Regions from separate parts of the Homo sapiens genome. Here region 1 is linked to region 2. Evidence: fine-mapped expression QTL. A gene starts in region 2. The other region holds a variant in brackets. All regions are shown on one strand. Distances are between the middles of the regions.

Region 1 (10,014 bases), 70 kb before region 2:
GCAAAAGATTGACATGGGCAATAATGTAAATGCAATTTGTTGAGCTTCATTGTGTTAGCACATTAAATTAATATCTGCTAACATCATTCTCAGTTGCATTTATCCCTCTTAAGCAGATAAAACACTGGTATTCTGAAAGAACAAGTTTAGGAATGTCATTATAATTTCATCAGAGAGTACTGACAACAATAAGATAAGCAGAGTAAAATTACATAATTAATGATCTCAGTATATATAATTACAACTACAATTTAAACAACTATAAAATGAGATTTATTGAAAAACGAAAGAAATTTCTGACGAAGGCCACATATATCACTGAAATGTCTGAATAATACACATAGTAGCTAGAGAGAAAATAAATTGCACCTTTAAGTATAACTGATTCTCTTAAGTGACACTGTTTTAAGACCCTTCAAAATCTCAGAATAGGAAGGATGTTTTCCATTAAGTAAATTCTTTACAAAAACCTTTAAGTCTGGCATTCTATTTAGATTGTGAAATGTCATAAAACATTTAGAATTCAACATTTATGCAATCCAGTTTTAGAAAATGAAATGGCATGCACATATCAAATTTTAAAGTTATCAAATAGAGGTTTACCTTTATGCCTATTGCTGTTTTCTTTGCTTCTGCTTTTAATTTGGTTGCTCGTAAAATAGGTTTAGTTTTTTTATAATCCTGTTTACCTAGAAAGAAATAGTTTCAGACAATGAGTTATGCTCATATATAATTAAGTTTAACAATCATTTGAAATGTCAAAGAATGTTTAAATACAGTGAAACAGGGACACGGAGTTGCAAAGTAGTTCCCAGTTGTGGTAACCATAAACTTGTCACCAAAAGGTCAACTTTTCCTTCTCTCTTACTTTTTCAGGAAGAGGATACTGACGGACATCTTCAATTTGCTGTATAGTGAATGTCAAAAAAGATAAAAACTTGTTTTAGAGAACACAAAATTTAAAGTAAAGAAAATAAAACTTTTGGAAGCATTTGGAAACAGATGCATAAGTAAATGAGTATATGTAAGATCCTATTAACAGCTAAAGTTAACTTTGTCTTCCTAAGAGTAACAGCTAATTATAAATGTATTTTATTATGGATACGTTAAGCATTCAAAACATAAGTGAGAAATATCCCCAAGTTTCCTTTAAGTAAAAGACTAAAGAAGAAATCTATAAATATTTAACTTTTAGCCCCACCCTGAATTCATTAGAAAAATATTTCTTTTATTTCCTCTTTTATTTCCTCTTAATAGAGAACAAAATTAACATGGCTAGATAGAAGTTATAGAATAGCTACATTTAGATATTAGTTTCAATAATTTCTTCCACATTTCATAGCCAAAAATGTGCGAAACTGAGTTAGTGCCACAAAATTTCCTTTGTGTATCATCTAGTGACTCCAGCAAAGAGTAACAAAAGTGGATTACACAGCCTGGGGAGAATATAGGTTTAACAACAAGAACAAGAACAGTGAAAGCATTCATTACAATGATATACTTTTTGTTAGCCAACTCTTAACTAGGAACTGAGTCAAAATGAGCCTCAAACATAACAATATAATATTTTATTCTCAGGAGGAGTTAATACATGATCGTATAATCTCTCTGGCTATTTTATATTCTTATTTTGTTTTATTTTCATCTTTTCCCCTTCCTTTCGATGACCAGTTCCTTTACAAAACTCATCGCTACATTCCCTTCATCTAAATAATACAAATTCTAACATTAATTTCCACATCTTCTTCACATTGAAATAAATTGAAAAGCAATTGGTCTAAACTCAAGTATATCATAAAAATTTAATGTGCAATATATCTTAATGTGTCTGCTAATGATTCAAAAGTATCTTTAAAATTTCATACAGAGTTTTAGAACTAGAAATGGTAGTCAAATGGATGGGCGTAGTGAAGAAACATTATATTTATGTCCATTAGACACATAAAAGTGTTTGTTTGGCTGGAAAGCAAGGTATTTTGTTTTTAAAGGATTGTCTTCTCTTTCCTTAACTGCTATTGTATAGCAATAACTCTGGATCAATGAGCATGCAGAAGCTTAATAAATATTATTTGATGATGGGGTCTGATGATCTAGAAATGAGACAATTGTCATAATATGTATCAAATGATCTAAATTTAAATAATGGAATGAACAAAATACATGAGAAAAATGTTACTCTGACCCATTTTAAATTAGCAATATTTAATTCTGATGAAAAAAATCTTGACAAGTGTTCACTCTAATTTCACATCTCTACAGTCAAACTATTCATGTCATTATTCCTGCTGAGCTATAAACAGTTCAGAACAATGAAAATGGTGACACATCAAAGGCCTCCGGTCAGGGTTACCAAGCAAGTTTCTAACAAGAATTCTGAAAGATATTTGAAGATTGTAGATTTATCACAAAGTAACTTCTTGTTTTATCCTGTATATGCCCTATAATAATCTCTTGATGCTATGGCGGGGGGTGGGGGGTGAGCAGCAGGAATAAACAGATGCAAGAGGATTATCTTAATTCATATTTTTTATACAGATATGAAATATTTTGGATAATGTATCTGTCATAAAACACATGCAAATATCTAAGAGTCAATACTAAAATGAGAATTTTTCACTCTACTTCAACTGCCATATAACCATTGGTTAAATAATGTATTCTATTTCAATTCAACTCTCATATTCTTAGAGAATAATACTTCCAGATTTGTATTCAAGTTGATATTAACATTTGAAACTGTATTTATAATAAAAAGACAGTATTAAAAGTTATTGTATACCTGGTACTTTTCCAAGCAGTGCATCTGTCATAAATTTAGCATTCTCCTTGTCGACTATGATATCCAAAAGTGTATATTGCAAAATGTGGTTTTAGTTTACTAAGTGACAACATTTACAGGAGTGTCTGGTAGGTTCTTTATAACTAAAGCCAGATCATTCCATTGTACCCAAAGAGGTTTTCAACATTTAAATATTTATGGCTTCAAGAAAGATACCTATGCCCACATGATTGTAAAAAATATAAAATATAGAAGTCCCTGACTTCTGCGTACTTACACCTAAGGGAAAAAAAAAACACAGTTACATAATCTAGATTTTATATGTAGACTGTTTCTTGAACACAACTGATTCTGATTTTGGTTGTATCAGTGATGCAATAACCAAAGTAGCTATTTGACAGTTGCTCATTAAATCTTATGTGGAGAGAAAAACTTGGTAATTCAAGCCTATGAAGCCAATCTGGGGCCTCAATCAAGCCCAATGTCTGAGCTTCCTTAGGAACAGGTTCTACTGCATTTTTCTGTGTATGAACTAACCTATTAGTTCTTTATGTGTTTCATAATTTTAAATTGAAAATCAAACATATTTGATAATGTAATGTGGAAACTCTGCAAACTAGATCGTCCCTGAGGTTTGTTGTTACTGTTATTTGCTCTTTGTTGTTGTTGTTAGAATCCCTTTGTTTAGTAACTTTACTGAACTAATTCTATAGAGACTGTATTCAATAGTATATGGTCACTGAAGTCTCTGCACAGTTACCTTATTGGTCATCTGCTGTGGTTTAATGTGTCCCCCAAAATTCATGTTGGAAACTTAATTTCCAGTGCAACAGTTTTGAGAGGTGGGATCTGTAAGAGGAGAGTGGATCATAAGGACTCTGCCCTCATGAATAACTTAATGCCATTATTGTGAGAGTGGGTTAGTTATCATAGAAGTTAGTTCATAATACAAAGATAAATTCAGTTTACTTCCTCATTCTCTCTTGTGCATGCTCTTTGGCCCTTCTGCCTTCCACCATGGGATAATGCATTCACAAGGCCCTTGCCAGAGGCAGGCCCCTCCAGCTTAGACTTCCCAGTCTCCACAATCATAAGAAATAAATATCTGTTCTTTACACATTTTCTAATCTCAAAGGTTTTGTTATAGCAGCACCAAATAGACTAAGACAGAAAACTGGTACCAAGAAGTAGGGGTGCTGCTATAACAAACACCTGGAAATGTGGAAGTGGCTTTGGAAATGTGCAATGGGGAGGGGCTGGATGAATTTGAAAGAGCAGGCTAGAAAAACCCTGTATTGCCATGAAGGAAGCATTAAAGGTGATTCTGGGGGGTGCTCAGAAGAAATGGTGAGATGTAAGGAAAGTCTGAATCTTCTTAGGGATTATTTGAGTAGTCATAATCAGAATGTTTGTAGAAACATGAAAAGTAAAGGCCATTTTGATGAGGTCTCAGATGGAAATGGGAGACATCTTATTGGGACCTGGAGTAAAGGCTATCCTTGTTATAAATTGGCAAAGAAC[G/A]TGGCTGAATTGCTTCCATGTCAAATACTTTATATGGAAGACAGAATGTACAAGCAATGGACTAAAGTATCTGCCAGAATAAATTTCTAAGCAAATTACTGAAGGAGTTGTATGACTGCCTTTTACCTCATATAGTGAGATGTGCAAAAAAAGAAATGACTAAAAGGTAAAATTTACAATTAAAAGAGAAACAGGAGGAAAAGATTTATAAAACTCTCAGCCTGGCCATGTAAAGAATAAAAAAAAAGTGTGCTGAGGAGAGAATACTAAAGGTGTGACCAAGCAACCCTTTGCTAAAGAGATTACTAGGGAGAGAAGGGGACCAGGTGCTATTCATCAGGACAATGAGAGAAAGACCTCAAAGACATTTCAGAGATCTCTGAGAATGCCCCTCCCAAAATAGATCCAGAAGATCTTAAGGGCAACATCTCCAGAGAGGCTTCCAGGGGACCTCTGTATTCACTGCCTGGAGTTGCCTTGGGACTCTGTTTCTCACATTCCAGCACAGCACCCCTCAGCCATGCCAGCTGTGGCTTAAGCAGGCCCAGGTGAAGTTTGTGCTGCAGCTCCGGGGACACAAGGGATAAGTCTTAGCAGGGTTCATGTAGTGCTGATTCTGCAGACTTACTGATTTCATGAGCTGTGGGGCCATGGAGGCCCCCAACTAGACTTCAAAAGATGTTCTGGACAGCCTGGGGACCCAGGCAGAAACTTGTTGCAGGGATGAAGCCACTGCAGAGAGCCCTGACTAGGGCAATGCCTAGTGAAGCCACAGGAGAAAAGCCACCTCAGAGACTCAAGAATTATAGAGCTACCAGTGTGCAATTACAGTCTGGGAAAGAACCAGTCAAGAGACTCCAACCTGTGAGAGCTGCTGGGTGGTTTGAACCCAACAAAGCCATATGGGGAGGGTTGCCTGAGGCCTTAGGGGCCCAATGCCTGCCCCAATGTGACCAGGATGTGGGACATGGAGTCAAAGGATATTATGTCCAGCTTTAAGATTTAATGTTGTTTTCCCTGTTGGGTTTTGGACTTGCTTGGAATCTGTTACTACTTTTTTCTTGCCTAATTCTCCCTTTTGGAATGGGAATGTCTGTGGTAGGCTTGTGTCAACATTGCATTTTCTTTTTCTTTCTTTTTTTTTTTTTTAGATGTTGTTTCACTCCTGTCTCCCAGGCTGGAGTGCAATGGCATGATCCTGGCTCACTGCAACCTCTGCCTCCCAGGTTCAAGTGATTCTCCTGCCTCAGCCTCCCAAGTAGCTGGGATTACAGGCATGCACCACCACGCCTGGCTAATTTTTGTATTTTTAGTAGAGATGGGGTTTCGCAATACTGGCCATGCTGGTCTTGAACTCCTGACCTCAGGTGATCCACCCACCTCGGCGTCCCAAAGTGCTGGGATTACAGGCATGAGCCACCATGCCAGGCCCCAGCATTGTACTTTGGAAGTAGATAATTTGATTAATTTCACAGGCTCACAGATGGAGAGGAATTTGCCTCGAGACGAATGATGCCTTGAGTCTTACCCACATGTGATTTTAAATGAGACTTTGGATTTTGAAATTTTGAGTCGATACTGGAAGGAGGTAAGACTTTTGGGACTATTGAGATGGAATGAATGTATTTTGCATTGTAAGAAGGACATGAACTTTGAAGGCCAGGGCTAGAATGCTATAATTTGAATGTGTCCTGAAAAGTTCATGTTTTGGAAACTTAATCTCCAATTCAACAACATTGAGAGGTGGGACTTTTAAGAGATTATTAGGTCATAAGGGCTCTGCCCTCATGAATGAATTAGTTATCACAGGAGTGGGCTCATGATAAAAGAATGAGCTTGGTCCCTTTCCTCTTGCTTTCTTGTATGTGCTCTTTTGTCCTTTATTCTTCCCCATTAGGATGATGCGTTGACCTTTGACTTTCCAGACTCCAGAACTTTAAAAAATAGATTTCTTTTCTTTATAAATTACCCAGTCTCAGGTATTCTGTTATAGCAGCACCAAATGGACTAAGACATCATGTAATGACTGGACAGATATTTCCTTAAATGCTTTGAACCACTAAGTCTCTTAATTTTGCTGAGGAGCTATGTGACTATTTGTGTGTGTGTCTGTATATGTGCATGCAGGTATATGTGTATGTTTTTGTGTTGGGGTACATCTCCATGCTACAACAGAGGTTTATAGTTATGCCTTAGCCTTCACTTCTGCTTGTGAAGAGCCTTAAGTCCACCAAGAGGTAAGAGATTATAGGTTCCTCACATCTTTAATGGGCATGATATAGCCCTGCTCGTGCACATGACCTTCTAGATTCTCAGGAATCTGTCAGACCTTTTAAAAAATTCTATGGGCATGTTGTTCCCCTGTTTTTGCTTTTATTCTTTGGTCAGTCTCATGTTTAACCCCACTAGTAATGATGCTTCAGGCAACTACAATGTTAAACACTTGTTGTTCATTGTTTTTGTCAAATGCCACAGAGAAAGGGCTCTTCACACAGAGTTAGCTCTAAGTAAAGTCAAATAAAGACAAGTTTTGAGAAAGGGGCTTTTCAGTGAGTTTCCAGACTGGTCAAATTGTGACAAGTCTTGAGGATGGGGGCTTTGCATATCTCCAAATGAATTTTGCCTTCTCCAGTGGCTGCTACGCTAACGTTTTCCGTAACTACTGTAGTTGAAAGGCTAAAGAAAAGAAAATGGCATTAAGGCAAGTTAAAACACCACAAAGATTGCAGATATTACTGAGATTCACCTGTTTTTCTGAAATAAACACTCCTTAGATGGTTTTAAGATTTTAGTTAATTTTCAGGTTTCTGGAAAACATTGATTTTGATAGTTTTCACCAGTGTTCTCACTGGCTTTATATAAAAGCAGATTTTCAGAGGTTTTTACTTTCCACTCAAGAAGTACTTCTCCTCCATAGCTTTAATTTTACTATCATCACATTTAAAGTTAGTATGTTGGATTTTTACATTAATTTTCATTCATTTACAATTTTTATAACCATAAAATAGGATACAATGGCTGAGTCAAACAGAGGTTGCTGCTTAAAAGCTCAGTGTTGGTAATCTATCAGTTATTTCAGGCTGAATGTTTCAAATTCTCTTTTTGTTTTTTACTTAATTTTTGCAGGTACATAATAGGTGTGTGTGTGTATATATATATATATATATATATATATATATATATATATAGATGGGGGTACATGAGCTATTTTGATACAAGCATATAATGCATGATAATCACATCAGGGTAAATGCGGTATCTATCTCCTCCAGAATTTTCCTTTCTTTGTGTTGCAAACAATCTGATTATACTACTTTTTTTTTTTTTTCTGGAGTCTCACTCTGTCATCAGGCCAGAGTGCAGTGGCACAATCTCGTCTCATTGTAACCTCTGACTCCTCTGATTCTCCTGCCTCAGCCTCCCAAGTAACTGGGTTTACAGGCACATGACACCATGGCCAGCTAATTTTTGTATTTTTAGTAGAGATGGGGTTTCACCATGTTAGCCAGGATGGTCTCAATCTCTTGACCTCGTGATCTGCCCACCTTAGCCTCCCAAATCACACCTGGGATTACAGGCATGAGCCACTGCACTTGGCCTTTTTCATTATTTTTAAATGTACAATAAGTTTTATCAAATACTAGATCTTATTCATTCTTACTAACTATATTTCTGTGCCCATTAACCATTCCCACTCCTTCCACCCCCTCCCCAATACTCTTCCCAGTCTCTGGTTACCATCCTTTTATTCTCTATTTCCATGAGTTCAATTGTTTAAATTTTTTTAGCTCCCACAAATAAGTGAGAAGATGCCCACTTTTTCTTTCTGTACCTGGCTTATTTCACTTGACATAATGACCTCCAGTTACATCCATGTTGTCGCAAATGACAGGATCTCATTCTTTTTTCATGGATGAACAGTACTTCATTGTGTATAAGTAACACTTTCTATAGCCATTCATCTATTGATGGACACTTAGGTTGCTTCTGAATCTTGGCTACTGTGAATAGTGCTGCAATAAACGTAGGAGTGTAGATATCTTTTTGGTATCCTGATTTCCTTTCTTTTGCATATATACTTAGCAGTAGGGTTGCTGGATCATCTGGTAGCTCTATTTTTAGGTTTTTGGGGGAACCTCCAAACCGTTTTCAATAGTGGTTGTACTAATTTACATTCCCACCAACAGTGTATGAGGGTTTCCTTTCCTCCACATCCTCACCAGCATTCGTTCTTGCACCTTTTGGATAAAAGCCATTTTTAACTGAGGTGAGATGATATTTCATTGTATTTTTGATTTTCATTTCTCTAATGATTAATGATTTTGAGCATGTTTTCATACACCTGTTTGCTACTTGTATGCTCCTTTTGAGAAATGCCTATTCAGATATTTTGCCCATTCAAAACTCAGATTATTAAATTTTTTCCTATTGGGTTGTCTGAGCTCTTCATGTATTCCAGTTATTAATCCTTTGTTAGATAGTTTGCAAATATTTTCTCCCATTCTGTGGGTTGTCCCTTTCACTTTACTGATGGTTTCCTTTGCTGTTCAGGAGCTTTTTAATATGATGTAATCCCACTTCTCCATTTTTGCTTTGGTTGTCTGAGCTTGTGAACTATGATTCAAGAAATCTTTACCCAATCCAATTTCCTGGAGAGTTTCCCCAATGATTTCCTTTAGTAGTTTCATAGTTTGAGGTTTAAGTCTAATGCATTTTGATTTGATTTTTGTATATGGTAAAAGATAGGGTTCTAGTTGCAGTCTTCTGAATATAGATATCCAGTTTCCACAGTACCATTTTTTGAAGAGACTGTCCATATCTTAATGTATGTTCTTAGCACCTTTATCAAAAATGAGCTCACTGTAGATGTAAGAATTTGTTTCTGAGTTCTCTATTCTATTCCATTGGTGTATGTGTCTGGTTTTATGTGAGTACCATGCTGTTTTGGTTACTACAGTTCTGCAGTATAATTTGAAGTCAGTTAATGTGATTCTTCCAGTTTTGTTCTTTTTGCTCAGGATGGCTTTTGCAATTCTGAGGCTTTTTTGGTTTAATATAAATGTTAGGATTACTTTTTCTATTTCTGTAAAGAATTTCATTGGTATTTTGATAGAGATTGCATTGAATTTATAGTTTGCTCTGGGTAGGATAAACAATTTAGCAATATTGATTTTTCCAATCCATGAACATGGAATATTTTCCCATTTTTTTGTGTTCTCTTCAAATTTTTATCATTGTTTTATAGTTTTCATTATAGAAATCTTTAACTTATTTGCTTAAGTTTATTCCTAGGTGTTTTGTTTTATTTGCAGCTATTGCAAATGGGATTACTTTCTTGATTTTTTTTCAGACTCTTTGCTATTGTCATATGGAAATCCTACTGATTTTTGTAGGTTGATTTTGTACAAAAATCAACTCCAGCAACTATACTGAAATTGCTTATTAATTTTAATAGTTTCTCATAAAGTCTTTTGTTTTTTCCAAATATAAGACCATATCATCTGCAAACAAGGATAATTTGATTTCTTCCTTTCCAATTTGGATGTCCTTTCTTTCTTTTGTCTGATTGCTCTAGCTATGACTTCCAGTACCATGTTGAATAACGGGGGTGGAAAGTGAGCAGTCTTGTCTTGTTCCAGATCTTAGAGAAAGGGCTTTCACTTTTTCCTCATTCAGTATGATACTAGCTGTGGGTCTGTCATATATGGCTTTTA
Region 2 (10,014 bases):
TGAAGTTCTCCTATCCATAGAAGCCATGTATTCTTGAATGTGTTGGACGGCAAATAACTCCCCGAAATGTTCTTCCTTCCTTAGCTTAAAATTATTTTTAGAGATTCATAGGTATGCCTCTGAGTTTTCTACTGATAACCTCTGCCTTGATTTTGTAGGATGTCTTGTTTCACTTGATTTATTTTCAAATGTTAATTTATCCAGAATATTTTAGCACTGAAAAAACTGTATAGATAATTTCTACATAAGCCAGTGTTTTCCATTTATCGATAAAGGGGACGGTGTTGAGGGGAGGCAGAAAATGAACTCCCTAGGAATGCAGACAAAGCAGAATCGGAAACTGGGAGGTTCTTTTTAAAACTGTACCTTCCCATCCTGAAAAAAAAAATCTGATATACCTCCTCTGCCCAGAGAGATTCAGTACTATATACTGAGTCACTGTGAATGACGGCAACGTATTATAATGCTCAAGCATGTTGTTCAAAAAAAAGAAAAATCTTCAACCTTTTCCACATAGATAATTAACTTGACTGGAAAGTTATTAATACCCAACAAAGGATATTTCTACCTACAGAGCTAAGTCTAAAACTTTCAATACAGTGCACCTTCCACCTGCTATAGGTAATAAACTATAATCCACAATTAGGACTTTGCCACAGGTATCCATATAGTTCATTATTCCATACCCTGCAATATTTGAATATTTTAACATTCAAAGTATGTAAAACAAATGTTATTTGGATTAACCTATCTTTCTTTTGTCATTGTCAAACTTTTAAATTGTTCAATACAATTGGTCTGTTATTTTTGCAACTACGTCACTAAATAATACTACTACAGAAGAACTAAGCTAGTTTATGCTGTTGTCATTCTCCACTTCAGTGGCTTAAAAGTCATGTGACTGACAAGAGTCTTTCATTAATGGAACTGTCTTTGCCTTTTGAGTCAAAAAAACTGTTAAACCACTGAATATGGAGTATTTACCTTTTTATTGTTTAACATTTCAAAATTACGAATTAAGTAGGAATCATTTATTTTTCATGGAAACATACACCTATCTCACTCTATTGTTGCAAAGATGCTGAACATTTCTACCATATAAAAAAGGTATAAATATATATAATGGTATGAAAAATTAGCTCTAGGCCTACATGATCCTTATCTGTTTAATAGGAAATTTGAGAATATCAAATATGATCAAATATGTATCACTATTTTCCATTAGTATTATTTTAGTCACTCTGGATGAATACCAAAAAACCACAAAATTCTAAGTAATATTGTTTAAGACATTAACACTTTGAGTCAAATCTACTGATATCAAAAACACAGATACATATGCACAAAGATTAAGGAGAAAGCTGGCTGAGTTTCGCGTTTCTACATAGAAGAATGTCCACTGGAGCAGGGACTCTCAAAAGATGCTTTGGCATTGGAGTGAGACAAAGAAATTCTTTATTGAGCTGATAGATCTCTACATTACACAATATTTATCATCTCTGAACTTCAGGATCCCAAAAGCCAGTAGTACTTCCTTTAAAGAAATTAGAATAATTTTAAAACACCCTGGCATATTTCAAATACCCCAGAGGTGTCACCCAGAATGGAAAACCATTCTGGAAATGGAAAACCAGAGCACTAGATTAACAGTCCTGGCCTCAGATCCCACTTCTTCTTCACAGCTTACCAAAAAGAGACGTATCTGACCGGTTCACATTACTCCACCGGTAGAGCTAACCCATTATAAACCACTAAGCACTGGAGATTTTCCATCTTTTATTAGACCTCTGCCCTACACCATGAAAAGCAGTAATTGTAAGTAAGCGTATCTGTTCCGCAATCTGAAATTTTTCTCTCAGCTGAACTAAAGTCTAGGTTCTGGGAAAGAGAGTAGGAGTAAAAGGGGATAGGAAGTACTAGTACTCATTTTTGGTCTCATTTTTGCATAAAGCACTATCCCCACTCGACTTGTTATTGCAAGTTGAAGTTGATATGGCAGGCGCCACATGTCTGTTTACAAACGCAAGAGAGGAAGGAAAGAGCTATTATTGAGCCCCTAAAAATCTCTAAATCCATTGTAATGCTCTCTCTAAGCCATTTGTCTTTATCCCTGTTTCTCTACCAGAAATGAACAGAGTTGAATAAAGAAAGAGTCAAGTACCAAACAGTTCAAATAAAATTACAAGTACTAACGAAATAACAGGTGCATATATACATTTATGCGTTTTACAAAAGCAATAGCTCTTTACCTCTTCAAGTTTTTCCTTATCCAATAACAACTTTTTATATCTACTACTGATATCCACTTTTATTGATAAAGCTAGATAGGGAATCAGACCAAAGAAAATAATGAACTCTATTTACAGATTTCTATATGAATATAGAAATCAGGAAAAGAGCCACAGTGAAAACAACCACAATTCTTTTTAGCCACAAATTAAAATGTTATAAAAGATTATTCACTTAAGTTTAAAAAAAAAAAAACAGTTCTAAGTATCAAGTAATGATATTCCAGTGGCATGTACTAAAAATAATCAGCTTTTCTTTGTCCAAAACGGACCTCGATAGATGAGAAAGTTTATGGATTTAATGTTCATCTCAAAAGTACAATTTTGGCCAGACGCGGTGGCTCACCCCTGTAATCTCAACACTTTGGGAGGCCGAGGCGGGCGGATCACCTGAGGTTGGGAGTTCGAGACCAGCCTGACCAACATGAAGAAACCCCGTCTGTACTAAAAATACAAAATTAGCCAGGTGTGGTGGTGCACTCCTGTAATCCCAGCTACTCGGGAGGCTGAGGCAGGAGAATTGCTTGAACCAGGAAGGCAGAGGTTGTGGTGAGCTGAGATAGCGCCATTGCACTCCAGCCTGGGCAACAAGAGTGAAACTCCGTCTCAAAAAAAAAAAAAAAATACAGTTTCACATTTTTCTCAAAATATTTGACAATGTTCTTTTTACTTGTTTAAATACCAGAATATGCTTTAAGAGGTTATGATCAAAGGGCATTTGGGATAAAACATAGATTACATGGTTTTGTAAGATAGCAACAAATAACTGAACATTAGTAGTTCCCGTTTGTTAGTGCTCAAAAAAACAAAAAAGTACAATGGGAAAGGGGGCCCCAAAAGGGAACTGCAGATGACTGAAGGCCTTGAACAAAGGTATGTTATGGTAAGAGGCACTGTGGAAGAAAGGCAAAAGCCCCACTCTGCTCCCAGCTATGTAGCCTTGGGTAAAAGTTACTTAGTCTCTCTGTAGGATGAGGCAAGTGGGAGAGAATAATTTCCTTATCCCTAAAGAAGTTGAACAAAAACAGGGTCCATTTAGGCTTAAAATTGTGCATTTTTCTGAGGAGCAAGTCAATAGCTTTCCTTGGTTTCTCAAAGTGGTAAATGACACCAAAAAGGTTAGTCATCCTCGCATTAAAAGGTAATGTTTCCCAATCTTTTCAGGTATATATATATATCTATATATATATATATATCTAGTGATATTAAAGAGGAAAAGGTGTCATTCAAGACATTACAGGTTCTACCTAACCAGAACCAACACAGAATCAATAATGAATAGATGAGTTAATTTCTTCCCCATTTCTAAATAACCCTAAGATTAAAAAAAAAAAAAATCACAAGGGAAATTTGAAAATACTTAAAGCTGAATGGCAATACTTATACGTGTTTATAAATTTGGATCATATACACAAAAAGATTAAAAGTGTAATCAATAATGCTTTACATTTGTGTGGATCATTACTTTAATGATACTTTCACAACCAATTATTCCTCCTTTTTTAGGAAGGAAGGGCATATCCTAGAGTCTCCAATTTACAGATAACGAAACAATTATTGCCCAAGGACAAACATTTCTTAACCATGCCAGTTTCCTGACTTGTAGGCCAATGCTCCTCCCAATGTTAACAAGCAGCACAAGCTTCCTTCCTGGGGGTTTGCACTGTAAACCTGCCAGAGGAAAATAAAAGATTTTTACCTCTTTTGTTTTTTCTCTCTGGAATGTTTGTTGTGCTGAATCATTAGGAGACAGAGTATATGAGCAAACAAAGGCAGATTTAAAATGGTTATCTGAGGTTACCATCTCACACCATACTTGTTGATCATTAAGTATGAGCCGAGTGAAGCAAAAACAGCTCTACAGGTTTAGCACACCTCTCCACAGTAGAGAATGAAAGGGAGATTATACATTGGGGCTCCTCTAGCAATAAATTGCTTCAACTTCTTCAGGAGGCTTATTAAGCTCAAACAAGCAGCAGAGAACTCCAAGTAGAAGAAACCTAATCTCCAATCCCCTTTTCCTAGTCATCCACGCGGACACCAACATCTGATGGATTCAGGAATACACCAAGCTCCAAGAAAAATACCCCCGCCCCACAACCTCACCACCACCGATAAAGCCACCTAATCCTGTCTGAATCTCTTCTCTGCAAATGTTTTGGTATGCAAATACTCGTTCATTAATAAGAGGAAGCAGGAAAAAGAGTGAAGAGGAGTACCATGGGAAAGGGGGCCCCAAAAGGGAACGGCAGAACCCAGAGAGCTGCACTGACAAGTAAGCGACCGCGAGTAATCGGTCAGCACAAAGGAGCCAATCCCGAGCCGCGTGGAAGACCTTGGGAGGTGGGCGGGACTAACGTGTCCAGGGCCCAGCGGCTGGCGCCAGACACGCTGGCAGGGCGGGAACCGCGCGTTCCTTAGCAACCGCAATGGCCACGCCCACCGAACCCAGCACCCTCCATCCCCCATCCCGCAGCCAGCGCCCTACTCAACGGGAACGGGTCCTTCAGTGATCACCGTACCTACTGGGTTTCCCGGACTCCGGGTTTCTCTTGCAGAGCCTCCCTCCGCCCAGCCCCACCAAGTGCCGCTCCCAGGGACGGAACGATCGTCTCCCAAACGCTTTAGGGCTCGCTAAAGAGGTGCGCCCGCTTTCATTCCCGGACCCCGAGCTTCCCGGGCAGGGTCTCCCCAATCCCCTCGCACTCGCCGGACACACACCTCAGCTCTGCCAAGGCAAGGGCCGACAAACTTCGTGTCCTGTGGGAAATGTTGCTGTCCACGGTTCTGTCACTCAGGGGCAGGGGCGGGACAAGCCAGCCGCACACCCCTACTCCCAAAGGGTGAGGCGGAAAAGAGGCGAGGCTCTGCCCCCAGGGGCGGGACCAGGCCTCAGCCTGCTCTCGGATTGGTCGGCCTTTCTCCCGTCTGTACGCCGGTCCAGGACGCAAAGGCGCTGGCCCTGAGGCCTTTCCCTCATTTTGATGCCACTCCGGAGTTCTAATACCTGTCTCACGAGGTGACTGTAGAAATTAAAAATAAAGACTGTGACTTGTTTAGTTAATATAAAACGGAAAAATATGTTATTTTGATTATTGAACCCTCCCATCTCACACACACACACTCCCCAATTCACAGGATCATCCCTAAGGAGCGTCCCTAAGTGGAAGGGCGCACTGTCTGTGTAAACAATCAATTAATTGCCCATTCAAACAGCAAAAAAGAAAAAAAAATCGTTTTATATTAACATTAACCAGAGATTAATAAATTTAGGAAAGATTGCAAAAACGTGACTGACAATTAGGATTTAGGAGCCTATGTTCGGGTACTCAATTTTCACATCTACAAAATGGGAATGAAATATTAAGATGTTACTTATTGGAAAAGTATTCAAATATTAAATGCTTTATAAATTATACTCATGTAATCCTTACAAAACCCACTAAGAGTATTATCCACAGCCTATGGACAATGAAACACAGGCTAGGAAAGGCTAGATTTATTCAACCATTCAACAAATCTAAGTGCCTGCAGCCATCATTTTTTAATATTGTGGTGAACTAAATCTAAAATTCCTTCAAAAAATTATGCAACCTCCAATTTAATTTTTCTCTTGCTCACATAAAAGTCACCTTCCTCTAGGCCAGCCCCATCATATCTTTTTCCAAAAGCCCTTGAGAAAGAAAGTAGCATACAAAAAAAAAAAAAAAAAAAAAACTGAGACAAGTATAAATAGACTAACCAGAAGGCTTTCTGAAATCTCACAGAATATTATGGCCAGGAATTGAATCCAAAATGTAATTTTATTTTCCGTCCTCCTAAATCATTTTCTGGTCTCCAGTTCCTCTCCCAGAAATAAAGGTAGAGTTAAATGAGATTATATTAATACACTTAACCAGATTACTTATGTGTGTGGCTTTAAAATAGTGAAACTCTTTTTCCTTCCATATTAAACCAAAACCCAGAAGGGTTTATCTTGTCTGATAGATACGGTTGTAGTAAGAAAAAAGAAAAAAAAAAAGAGTACCTCTGGACAAGTGCCTTGAGATTCAATTAAAATGTTCATCGTACTGTGATGCAATTGTTGGAATAAAAGAAACCCATTCCAATTACAAATAATTTTACACTCTTGACCTGCTGAATATCCAAATTCTTCTGAAAGCTTGCTAAATGTGAATAACTCTCTATAAAACTTTCTTGATTTGTATGACTCAGAGTCCCCATTTTCTTTAATCTTTTAAAAATATTTGGTTTGGCCAGGTGTGGTGGTTCATGCCTGTAATCCCAGCACTTTGGGAAGCTGAGGTGGACGGATTGCCTGAGGTCAGGAGTTCCAGACCAGCCTGGCCAACATGGTGAAACCCCGTCTCTACTAAAAATACAAAAATTAGGCAGGCATGGTGGCAGGCACCTGTAATCCCAGCTACTCAGGAGCCTGAGGCAGGAGAATTGCTTGAGCCCGGGAGGCAGAGGTTGCAGTGAGCCGAGATTGCATCATTGCACTCCAGCCTGGGCAACTGAGTGGGACTCCATCTCAAAAAAAAAAAAAAAAAAAAATTAGTTTTAGACTAAAAAGAAAGAGTTATGATTATATATTAATAAATATATAAATAAATGCTGTAAGATTTAAATAAAAGTGGTGAATGTACTTGAGTCCATTTTCATTACATAAAGATGTACAGCAATGCATTTGTACAGCAAATGCATTGAATATTCTCACATATGTAAGATATTATACAACAAGAAGTAAATAGCTTAATGTAAAATTAAAACTTCCAGATGTATGTTATATGCTTATTTCTTTACCATATAAAGACATATATTATTGACTTACATTTCTAGCAAATTGAAATATAATTGGCTGCATAGTATTCTATGGTGTATATGTGCCACATTTTCTTTATCCAGTCTATTATTGATGGGCATTTGGGTTGGTTCCAAGTCTTTGCTATTGTGAATAGTGCTGCAATAAACATACGTTGGCATGTGTCTTTATAGTAGCATGATTTATAATCCTTTGGGCATATACCCAGTAATGGAATTCCTGGGTCAAATGGCGTTTCTGGTTCTAGATCCTTGAGGAATCACCACACTGTCTTCTACAATGGTTGAACTAATTGACACTCCCACCAACAGTGTAAAAGCATTCCTATTTCTCCACATCCTCTCCAGCATCTGTTGTTTCCTGCCTTTTTAATGATCACCATTCTAACTAGCATGAGATGGTATCTCATTGTGGTTTTGATTTGCATTTCTGTAATGACCAGTGATAATGAGCTTTTTTTATATGCTTATTGGACGCATAAATGTATTCTTTTGAAAAGTGTCTGTTCATATCCTTCACCCACTTTTTGATGCGGTTGTTTGTTTTTTTCTTGTAAATTTGTTTAAGTTCCTTGTAGATTCTGGATATTAGCCCTTTGTCAGATGGATAGATTGCAAAAGGTTTCTCCCATTCTGTAGGTTGCCTGTTTACTCTAATGATAATTTCTTCAGCTATACAGAAGCTCTTCAGTTTAATTAGATCCCATTTGTCAATTTTGGCTTTTGTTGCAACTGCTTTTGGAATTTTAGTTATAAGTCTCTGCCCATGCTTATGTCCCGAATGATATTGCCTAGGTTTTCTTCTAGGGATTTTATGGTTTTAGGTCTTACGTTTAAGTCTTTCATTCATCTTGAGTTAATATTTATATAAGGTATAAGGAAGGGGTCCAGTTTCAGTTTCCTGCATATAGCTAGCCAGTTTTCCCAACACCATTTATTAAATAGGGAATCCTTTCCCCATTGCTTGTTTTTGTCAGGTTTGTCAAAGATCAGATGGTTGTAGGTGTGTGGTGTTATTTGTGAGGCCTCAGTTCTGTTCCACTGGTCTATATATCTGTTTTGGTACCAGTACCATGCTGTTTTGGTTACTGTAGTATAGATTGAAGTCAGGTAACATGATGCCCCTCTTTGTTCTTTTTGCTTAGGATTTTCTTGGCTATATGGGCTCTTTTTTGGTTACATATTTAGAATTATGTTTCTGTGTTTCCAAGTATTTGAGAGTTGTCTAATATCTTACAGTTATTGACTTTTAATTCCATTGTAGTTAGAAAATATATATTGTAATATTTCAAATTTTATTGAAAATTATTGACACATATATTATAACCCAACATATGGTTTATCTTTATGACTGTTCTCAGTGTATTTGGAAAAAAAATGTGTATTCTGAAATTATGGAATGCAGTATGCTCTAAATGTTGATTATAGTCTATATCTTATGACAGTTTTTTTTTTTTGCTTTTAAAAACATTTTATTTATTTATTTTATTTTTTCATTTTACTTTAAGTTCTAGGATACATGTGCAGAATGTGCAGATTTGTTACTTAGGTATACATATGCCATAGTGATCCTTACCAACATTTTTAAGCATATTCTATCACTTATTGAAAGAAAGGTGTTAAATCTCCAACTATGCTTGTGCATTTGTTTATATTTTCTTTTTTTAAAAAAAATTAATTTTTTTTAAATTTTAGGTTCCAGGATACATTTGCAGAATATGTGGGTTTGTTACACAGGTAAACTTGTGCCATGCTGGTTTGCTGCACCTATCAACCCATCCCTTAGATATTAAGCCCAGCATGCATTAGTTATTTATCCTGATGCTCTCCCTCTCCAAATCCTCCCCTAGCAGGTCCCTGTGTATGTTGTTCCCCTCCCTGTGTCCATGTGTTCTCATTGTTCAGCTCCCACTTATAAGTGAGAATATTCAGTGTTTGGTTTTCTGTTCTTACATTAGTTTGCCGAGGGTAATGGCTTCTGGCTCCATTCACGTTCCTGCAAAGGACATGATCTCATTCCTTTTTATGGCTGCATAGTATTCCATGGTGTATATGTACCACATTTTCTTTATCCAGTCTATCATTGATGGGCATTTGGGTTGATTCTATGTCTTTGCTATGGTGCATAGTGCTGCAATGAACATGCGCATGCATGTATCTTTATAATAGAATGATTTGTATTCCTTTGGGTATATACCAAGCAATGGGATTGCTGAGTGGAATGGTGGTTCTGCAGTTCTGCTTCTAGGTCTTTAAGGAATTGCCACACTGTCTTCCACAATGGTTGAACTAATTTACATTTCCACCAACAGTGTAAAAGTGTTCCTATTTCTCCACAGTCTCACCAGCATCTGTTGTTTCTTGACTTTTTAATAATTGCCATTCTGACTGGTGTGAAATGGTATCTCATTATAGGTTTTGTTTGCATTTCTCTAATGATCAGTGATGTTGAACTTTTTTTCATATGTTTCTTGGCCACATAGATGTCTTCTTTTGAGATGTCCCTGTTCGTGTCTTTTGCCCACTTTTTAATGGGGTTGTTTTTCTCTTGTAAATCTGTTTAAGTTCCCTGTAGATTGTAGATATTAGACCTTTGTCAGATGGATAGACTGCAAAAATTGTCTCCCATTCTGTAGGTTATCTTTTCACTCATGATAGTTTCTTTTGCTATGCAGAAGCTCTTTAGTTTAATTAGGTCTCATTTTTCAATTTTTGCTTTTGTTGCAATTGCTTTTGATCTTTTGTCATGAAATCTTTGCCCATGTCTATGTCCTGAATGGTACTGCCTAGATTTTCTTCTAGGGTTTTTATAGTTTTGGGTTTTACATTTAAGTCTTTAATGCATCTTGAATTATTTTTTGTATAAGGTATAAGGTCGGGGTCTAGTTTCAGTTTTCTACAT

The links.
Region 1: its variant is fine-mapped to the expression of TRIQK in whole blood (TOPMed, PIP 0.97).

The regions. Positions count from the first base shown.
Region 1 is chr8:92,891,386-92,901,399 of GRCh38, forward strand. It overlaps TRIQK (triple QxxK/R motif containing), which reads right to left. Exons shown (of 5, transcript NM_001171797.2): 4 at 604-689. Among named protein-coding and RNA genes, the nearest start is that of TRIQK, 70 kb to the right of the region's middle. The variant G/A (reference allele first, on the strand shown) is at 4,301.
Region 2 is chr8:92,960,998-92,971,011 of GRCh38, forward strand. It overlaps TRIQK (triple QxxK/R motif containing), which reads right to left and starts at 5,147. Exons shown (of 5, transcript NM_001171797.2): 1 at 5,010-5,147. RefSeq lists an enhancer at 4,354-4,463 and a silencer at 5,134-5,243.